Linked DNA regions of Homo sapiens. The protein of the gene in region 1 interacts with the protein of each later gene in a biochemical or structural test. Each region holds a gene or a part of one and is shown in the gene's direction. Other genes may lie near its edges. The genes, in order: NGF and ITGB1.

Region 1 (3,823 bases):
TTCACAGCCACTCTTTGTGCCCTTCACCAGTGGAGTAGAGGGGTAGGGAAGAGTTCCAAATCTGCACACAGGAGGTGTGGCTCCGAGTTCCACTTCTGTTTGCTGTGTACCTGTGATGCAATTACTTAATCTTACTACATCTCTGGTTTCTCATTGTTAAAATAGGAATAATATGGCCAACCTCCCAGGTTTGTGTAATGGTTAATTAGAAAATTATACCCAATAAATAATAATTACTATTATCTCAGCTCATTCATGTCAAGGTATGTCTTTTAGAATTCAGATCAGTAGATTTGGTTCCCATTAATGTATCCAGCACAGCTGCCCTCCGAGAGCCCAGTGACCCCACAGGCGCTGGTACCTGCTAGTGTTTTCTGGTTGCATATTTCTATCATGGGCATTTCAAGTGCTTTTAGATCAAGTCTACACGGTGCCCAGAAACCTAACAAAGCAGATATGAAAACAATTCAATATCTAAATATTCCCTAATATCTGGATTTATGGCATCAGGAAGGTAAAACTTACAATCTGTTGAATGGAATTTTCATTTCGATGTTGGGGGATGAGTATACTCACCCCACCACCTATCAGTTACAGTGTGCATACGGCTTCAGGCCTCTCTCCTCTAAAAGATAGCAAAGCTGAGCTCAAGTCAGGTGTTCACGGACTGGCCCTGCCACTCACTGGCTGCAAAAGCCCAAGTCACTTAGCCTCTCCAAGGCTCATTTTTGTCTTCTACAAAGTTAAAGAATTAGGCTAGACTCGTGGCTCTCAAAATATGGTCCCCAGACCAACAGCATCAGCATCATCTGGAAACTTACTAGAAATGTAGATTCTTAGTGTCCTCCTACCAGACCTACAGAATCGAGCATTCTGGAGATGGGGCCCAGCAGTCTATAGTGTAACAAACTCTCCAGGTGATTCTGATGCCCTGAAGTTTGAGAGCCTCTGGACTTGAATCTCTGATGTACCTTCTAGGCCATGCCTCCTCCCAATAAATCCTGTCCTAACAGAAGCTCTGGATTTTACTCTGTCGATGCCTCTCTCTGTTCAGCCCACCCCAGGACACCTCTGAAGTACCTTGCTGGAGAAATGAGGAGCCACAGAATTCCTCCCACACTCCACACCAGCTCCAACCCCCAAGAGTATTCGAGCCTTTACAACTGAAGACAGCAGCCAGTTAACATTTAGAGTGAAGGCCAAGCGTAAAACAAGAAATGACCCTTGGCCCACTCTCAGAATGTGGCGAATGAGATGGAGGAGGAGGAGGCTGGATTTCCTTGGCCACAAGAATTTCCTCTCTCACCAACTGTTAGTGACCCTGGTTCACGTATCCCATCTCTAGCCCAAGAATCACTCGTGGCTCTTGGCATGGCTGTCTCTAAGACAGGAATTCTCTCACTCCCTTCTACAACACATCTCCCCAGGCATGGTTGCCAAGCCTCCCAGTGCCATCAGCCCTCCTAACCACAAATATTTGGGCCAGTTGCTTAGCTCTGTTCAGCAGCTCCATCACCTATTCAGGTGAGGCCAGAATCTTTGAAGATCATTCACCTCGTGCGAGAAATTTATCCTATTATTGGAGTGTGTGAACCATTGGAAATCCACAGAATGTATCGCTGGTTCAGAAGAGGGCAAGAGGGCAGGGCAGCCCATCAGTGGCTGGTTGTAAAGGCATCCCAATGGGCTGCCCCACTCTTAGTCATGGATCTTCCATTCTAGGTAGGAGTAGGACAATTAAAGAGCATTCTCATATTAAATAGAACATGTTCGTTCATGTGAGCCCCTAACTGCATCCTCCTCAGCTGATCATTCAGCTTGCAGAGCTCTGCTTAATAAAGCCAGACAGAAAGCTGTCATCTGTTCAGGAGAAAGGCTTCAAAGGGTGTTTTTAAAAAATAAATAAATAAAACTTCTCCCCTGGTTCACATCAACCAAAAATAAAAAGAATGTTCTTTTCTAAATGGTGCATTATATCACTAGAATAGAAAATGCACTCAATTTTTCTTTTATCTACTGATCACTTTTAAGAGAGTTTTTTTTTAAACTTAAAAGTTTATAGGAACACACTCTCATGAGTAAATTAAATATTTTTTTAAAAAAACTTTAAACCTAAAATCTAAATGAGAGATATATTTGAGACATTTTCAAGTCTTAATGAAACATTCTGCCTGTGATACAAATCTCCATTGTGATTAAATGTGATACCATTTGGTATCTTGACTGTGAGTGGAAAAGTAGTGTTAGAGTGTAGGAACTTTGTGAAGTCAGTTCAGTCAAACCAGCAGATGCAAGGCAGGGTAGAAAACTTCATAATTACCTGAAATGAAAGAATATAATGGTTGGAAGATACCTTTAACATCATCATGCAGATGGAGAATTAAGGAACACTGGAGGCAGGAGACTTGTCTACATACTCACAGTTTCTTAGAGGAGGAGTTACCTAGGAGTTCTAGGTCACCTGGGGGCAACAAAGATGAGTAGGACACTTTGCTGCCTACAGGGAGTTTGTCCTCTAGAAGGGAGGATAAAAGAATACAACAGCCCTAAGAGAATATAAAGGGAAGGCTTTAAGAGATAGAGAAGGGGCAGGGCGTGGTGGCTTACGCCTATAATCCCAACACTTTGGGAGGCCGAGGGGGCGGATCACGAGATCAGAGATCAAGACCATCCTGGCCAACATGGTGAAACCCCGCCTCTGCAAAAAATAGAAAAATTAGCCAGGCGTGGCGGCGTGTGCCTGTAGTCCCAGCTACTCAGGAGGCTGAGGCAGGAGACTTGTTTGAACCCAGGAGGCAAAGGCTGCAGTGAGCCGAGATCAAGCCACTGCACTTCAGCCTGGGTGACAGAGCGAGACTCCATCTCAAAAAAAAAAAAAAAAAAAAAAAAAAAGATGAGAGAAGGTAGTTTGTCTCAGAATTAGAAAAAGCTCCCCAGGGGAAGCAGCATTGAAGTTGTTGAAGGACAACAGGAAGGATTCCACCAGCAGAGGTGGAGAGCAGAAAAGGCCCTGAGAGGGTAGGGGAGCATACCTGGAAGGGAAGAGTCTGAAAAAGGGCAGTGGTGGGGAAGCTCAAGCAGGAACTGCCCCCAGGAGTTTTGTGCACTCGGAATGCAAACTATGTGAGGGGAGTAGAAGGAGGCAGGATCCCATTGCCAGGCAGAGCAGTCCCTACTGGCTTACAGACAAGGGACTTGGCACCAGCTCCTTTGAGCAGGGTGATATGATCAGAGCAGGCTTTAAGAAGCTAAATGGGGTGGCCAGGGATAGGAGGAATTGGAAGAAGAGAGATGAGGGTCCAGGATATCAGGTGGGAGACTGTTCCCATGACCTGAACTAGGGGCCCAGAGATGAGAATGGAAGATAAAATACAGTTTCAAGATAATGCTACCAAACCAGAACCAAAAGGGCTGGATGGAGGTCAGGGAGGAAAAAGCAGAGGGATAAGCAGAGGTATGGAGCTAGTGGATGAATGAATGATGGTTCCAGTAACAGAAAAAGGAAACTGTGAAGAAGCGTGTTTAGGGAGATGAGGAGAGAGGATCAAGAGAGATGGTAGCTGTGAAACTATCATCAAATGGTCCAAAATGGGGCTGTTGCTATTGTATGCAGAGAAGGAAGATGGGGAGAAGATGATCCTAATTATGATTATGAGTATGAAGATTTTTGTTTTGGATGTCTTGCATTTAAAATGCCAGTATCTATGGAGAATTGCCCTCAGGAAGCAGGAGGGCAGAACTAGCTTCAAAAGACTAGTTGATTCGAGATCCAGGTATGGGAGTCAATTGCACAGAAATTTCGATGGGCTCCTTAGAAGAGGAG
Region 2 (3,823 bases), on another chromosome or scaffold:
ATGGGATGGAAGAGCTTCATTCAGTGGGCTTTGTGTGTTTCTCAGCAAGATAATTACCATTGTATAAAGAGAAGACACAGAAAATACAGAATTAGGTTAAAAATACAATGGTGGCCTATATGAAAATTAAAGGATTTTTGTTGAATTACTGTGAATAGTGTTTTAAAATTGAAATCCTTTTCTTTTCAAGTCACTGATTGGCTGGAGGAATGTTACACGGCTGCTGGTGTTTTCCACAGATGCCGGGTTTCACTTTGCTGGAGATGGGAAACTTGGTGGCATTGTTTTACCAAATGATGGACAATGTCACCTGGAAAATAATATGTACACAATGAGCCATTATTATGTAAGTGCCTGGTTCCTTACATAGTGAATGTGTTTATGTTGGATTTTAATGTTTAATACTAAGAGCTTGTGGGTGACTGGCTTGGGGTTTCTCAGGGTTTGAGGTTTTGCTGTTTTGGTAAGTAGGGGTCCTGATTGAAAGTGCAGGAAAGCTAGTGTTGCTGTTTGTGAAGATGCAGCTTTGTATTTGCTTCCTTCTGCTCAGACAAGGGCCTCACTGGGGTGGGAAAGGGATGCCCAGATGCCACTTTCACTCTTTGCCTCAACTCCCCGCCCACAGCATTTGGTAGCACAGTCAGTACTCTTTCTAAATAAATAATTTATCTAGTCTCATACTCTTTGTTTTATACGATTTTTAAAAGCAGTCACTCTGCCTTTATTGAAAATAAATATTGGCAAAGCATTCAAGTTCTAGAAGAAATCCAAATGGTAAATCTTGGTCTTTTTCTTAAGTTGTAGATAATAGAATATTTAATTACTGACTATTCTTTAATTTCATTGTCCTTATATTTAATATACATAGATAAACTTACTATTTAAAACCTTTTGAATATGGAATTTTTTATTCATACATGAAAGTAAAGAGAAGAGGATTAGCAATTCATGTATACACACGACTCACTTCAGCAGTTTATATTTGATACTGTTATTTGAAAGCAGTCTTGTAATCTAGTTATATGTATGCAACTAGATGTAATCTAGCTATATATGGATTATATATGTAATCTAGTTATCTAAAGCAGTCTTGTAATCGAGTTATGTGTAATCTTGCATGTATAACTAGATTGAAAAATTAGAAGAGATTATAAGGGTGTATTTAAATACTAAATTATATTACTTGATTTCTTAGGATTATCCTTCTATTGCTCACCTTGTCCAGAAACTGAGTGAAAATAATATTCAGACAATTTTTGCAGTTACTGAAGAATTTCAGCCTGTTTACAAGGTAAATGTGTGAGATAAAAAGAACAAGATTCTAAACATTTTTGATTGTTAGAGGCAAATCATGTCTGAATTGAAATGTGGGAAAATGCCACCAGATAGGCAAACCGAATTTTACAAAAGTGGTTTATATTAATTTTTAATCACATATTATAAAACTGGTTTCTAGGTTTGACTCCTAAAGTTAGTTAGGAGGAAACATGGGAACTGGCATTTAAAGATAAAAGTTGCTCAGTGGATCCTAATTGGTTGAATGAATAGCAGTTGTATTTTACGTGTTTTATCTTTTAATTGCAGGAGCTGAAAAACTTGATCCCTAAGTCAGCAGTAGGAACATTATCTGCAAATTCTAGCAATGTAATTCAGTTGATCATTGATGCATACAATGTGAGTACATCTTAAATAAGATCAGTTTTGGACAATACCCTGTTGAGAATACTTTGTACAAAGAAAGTAAAACTTCCTTCATACACACTTTAGCGAGCCCAAAGTACTACAGAAAAACTTAAATTCTGTATGTATCTAGAGGAAAAACTTTATACATATTGTCTTACAAAAGCAAGATTCATGGCCTAAACAAAGTGAAAATGTGATAAAGGCATGTGGGGAGTATTTCCAAATAACTGTTTGTTTATCATTAAGGAATAGATCTCCTTGTTAGAAAGCAATTGTAAAACATAACTTACATTTAAACTTACAGGATTTCTCCAATCTTTTTCCTCCCCAAAATATCCTTTATAGAGTCATCTATTCTGATGAATTGTGCTAGAAAAGTTTTTTTTTTTGCCAATTCTTCTCTTCCCATATATTCAGAGGATATGGGTTTCTATTTCAGGAGGTACACACTCATATATACGTATACCATAAAATATATAAAAATGTAAATATACATGTGATTTGCCTATTTCAAAAAGATTTATAGTGTTGTTTTCCCCTCACAGATGGGAGGAAGTTGAATTGAAATTAAAGAGGAATTGGCTTATCCTTTTTGAGCATAATTCAGTGTACTTTAATCACACCGAGTTAGCCTTCATTAATAATCATTTAAATAATCTGAAGGCGGTTGTAATTTGGTAGGTAACCCTTGTGTGTCTCGTGCACCACTTTCAGCCCCCATCCCCCTAACCCTTTGGCAGCTTGAATTTTAGACATTTTTACTTCATGTCATGGGGGTACCATAACGCTTTGGAAAGGCCAGCCTACCATATGAGGCTTCCCTTTTTTATGGGGTACCATAATGGTTTGGAAAGGCCTGACTTGGAGGGGTTTTTATAAAGGTTTTTAATATTTTACTTGTTCCACAGCTTTTCCCATTCTCCCCTGTCTTAGATAATTTTCCTAACTCTTGTTCTTTCAGGGGTGTGAACAAGAGATAGCTTGCCATTGTACCCTTCTCCATTTGTCCTGAATAGTCTCATATGTTAAACAAGCCCTGGCTTGAATCCTTCCTTCTTGGGGGATTTTGTTTTTTTTTTTTTTTGGCTGGGCTACAATGGTTCCTTAAGCAAATTTGTTCCTAGACTGCATAGTTGATTGTTTACCCTAGTCCATAGTTAGCTGGAGAGGTAGGACTACAGAAATGCCATTTTGCCGATGGGGAAGACAGCATTTATTTCGTTTTTTTTTGGGGGGTTTCTGTTTTTGTTTTTGTTTTTGTTTTTTAGATGGAGTCGCACTCTGTTGCTCAGGCTGGAGTGCAGTGGTGTGATCTTGGCTCACTGCAACCCCTGCCTCCCGGGTTCAGGCGATTCTTCTGTCTCAGCCTCCCGAGTAGCTGGGATTACAGGTGCACACTGCCATGCTTGGATAAATTTTTTTTTTTTTTTGTATTTTAGCGGAGATGGGGTTTCACTGTGTTGGCCAGGCTGGTCTCCAACTCCTGAGCTCAGGCAGTCCACCTACCTTGGCCTCCCAAAGTGCTGGGATTACAGGTGTGAGCTACCACACCCGGCCTATTCCACATTTTTAAGACTCCTCCTAATTAGTAACAGCCCTCTGCACTGTGTGATCCTGAGTATTTTAACTCAGTGATTAAAACAGGAATACTCTTTTCAATTGTGTATTTTATTTTAAAGATTTGATCCTTATTAATTAAAACCTGTTTCTCTGGCCTCTGTGTTTTCTAGTTACTCAATTGGATTTGGCTTGTAGATACTTTATTGAAATATATTTTTTTCTGAGCAGTTTATCCATTGGTTTTATGCATTCAAGTAGCATTTTGTTTGACTTTTCCTGTGTATAATTAGGCATTCTTTTAGTCCCTTTCCTCAGAAGTCATTTTGGAAAACGGCAAATTGTCAGAAGGCGTAACAATAAGTTACAAATCTTACTGCAAGAACGGGGTGAATGGAACAGGGGAAAATGGAAGAAAATGTTCCAATATTTCCATTGGAGATGAGGTATGTTGTATAAAGCATTTTCTGTAGAAAACATTGGTTATTTATAAGCAAATTTAGTTTATAGTTTGAGAAACATTAAAATAAGTGAGCAACTTTTTGAAATATTTTTTAGTAGATTTAAATTGTTTAGTTGGTTG

What was found.
Region 2: the proteins of NGF (region 1) and ITGB1 form a complex in vitro, tested with the Homo sapiens proteins (one study listed by BioGRID).

What each region holds. Positions count from the first base shown.
Region 1 is NC_000001.11:115,289,456-115,293,278, reverse strand, and holds part of NGF (beta-nerve growth factor precursor), read left to right. Parts: intron 1-3,823. UniProt on the Homo sapiens protein: Nerve growth factor is important for the development and maintenance of the sympathetic and sensory nervous systems.
Region 2 is NC_000010.11:32,920,108-32,923,930, reverse strand, and holds part of ITGB1 (integrin beta-1 isoform 1A precursor), read left to right. Parts: intron 1-190; coding exon 191-346; intron 347-1,195; coding exon 1,196-1,291; intron 1,292-1,584; coding exon 1,585-1,674; intron 1,675-3,545; coding exon 3,546-3,686; intron 3,687-3,823.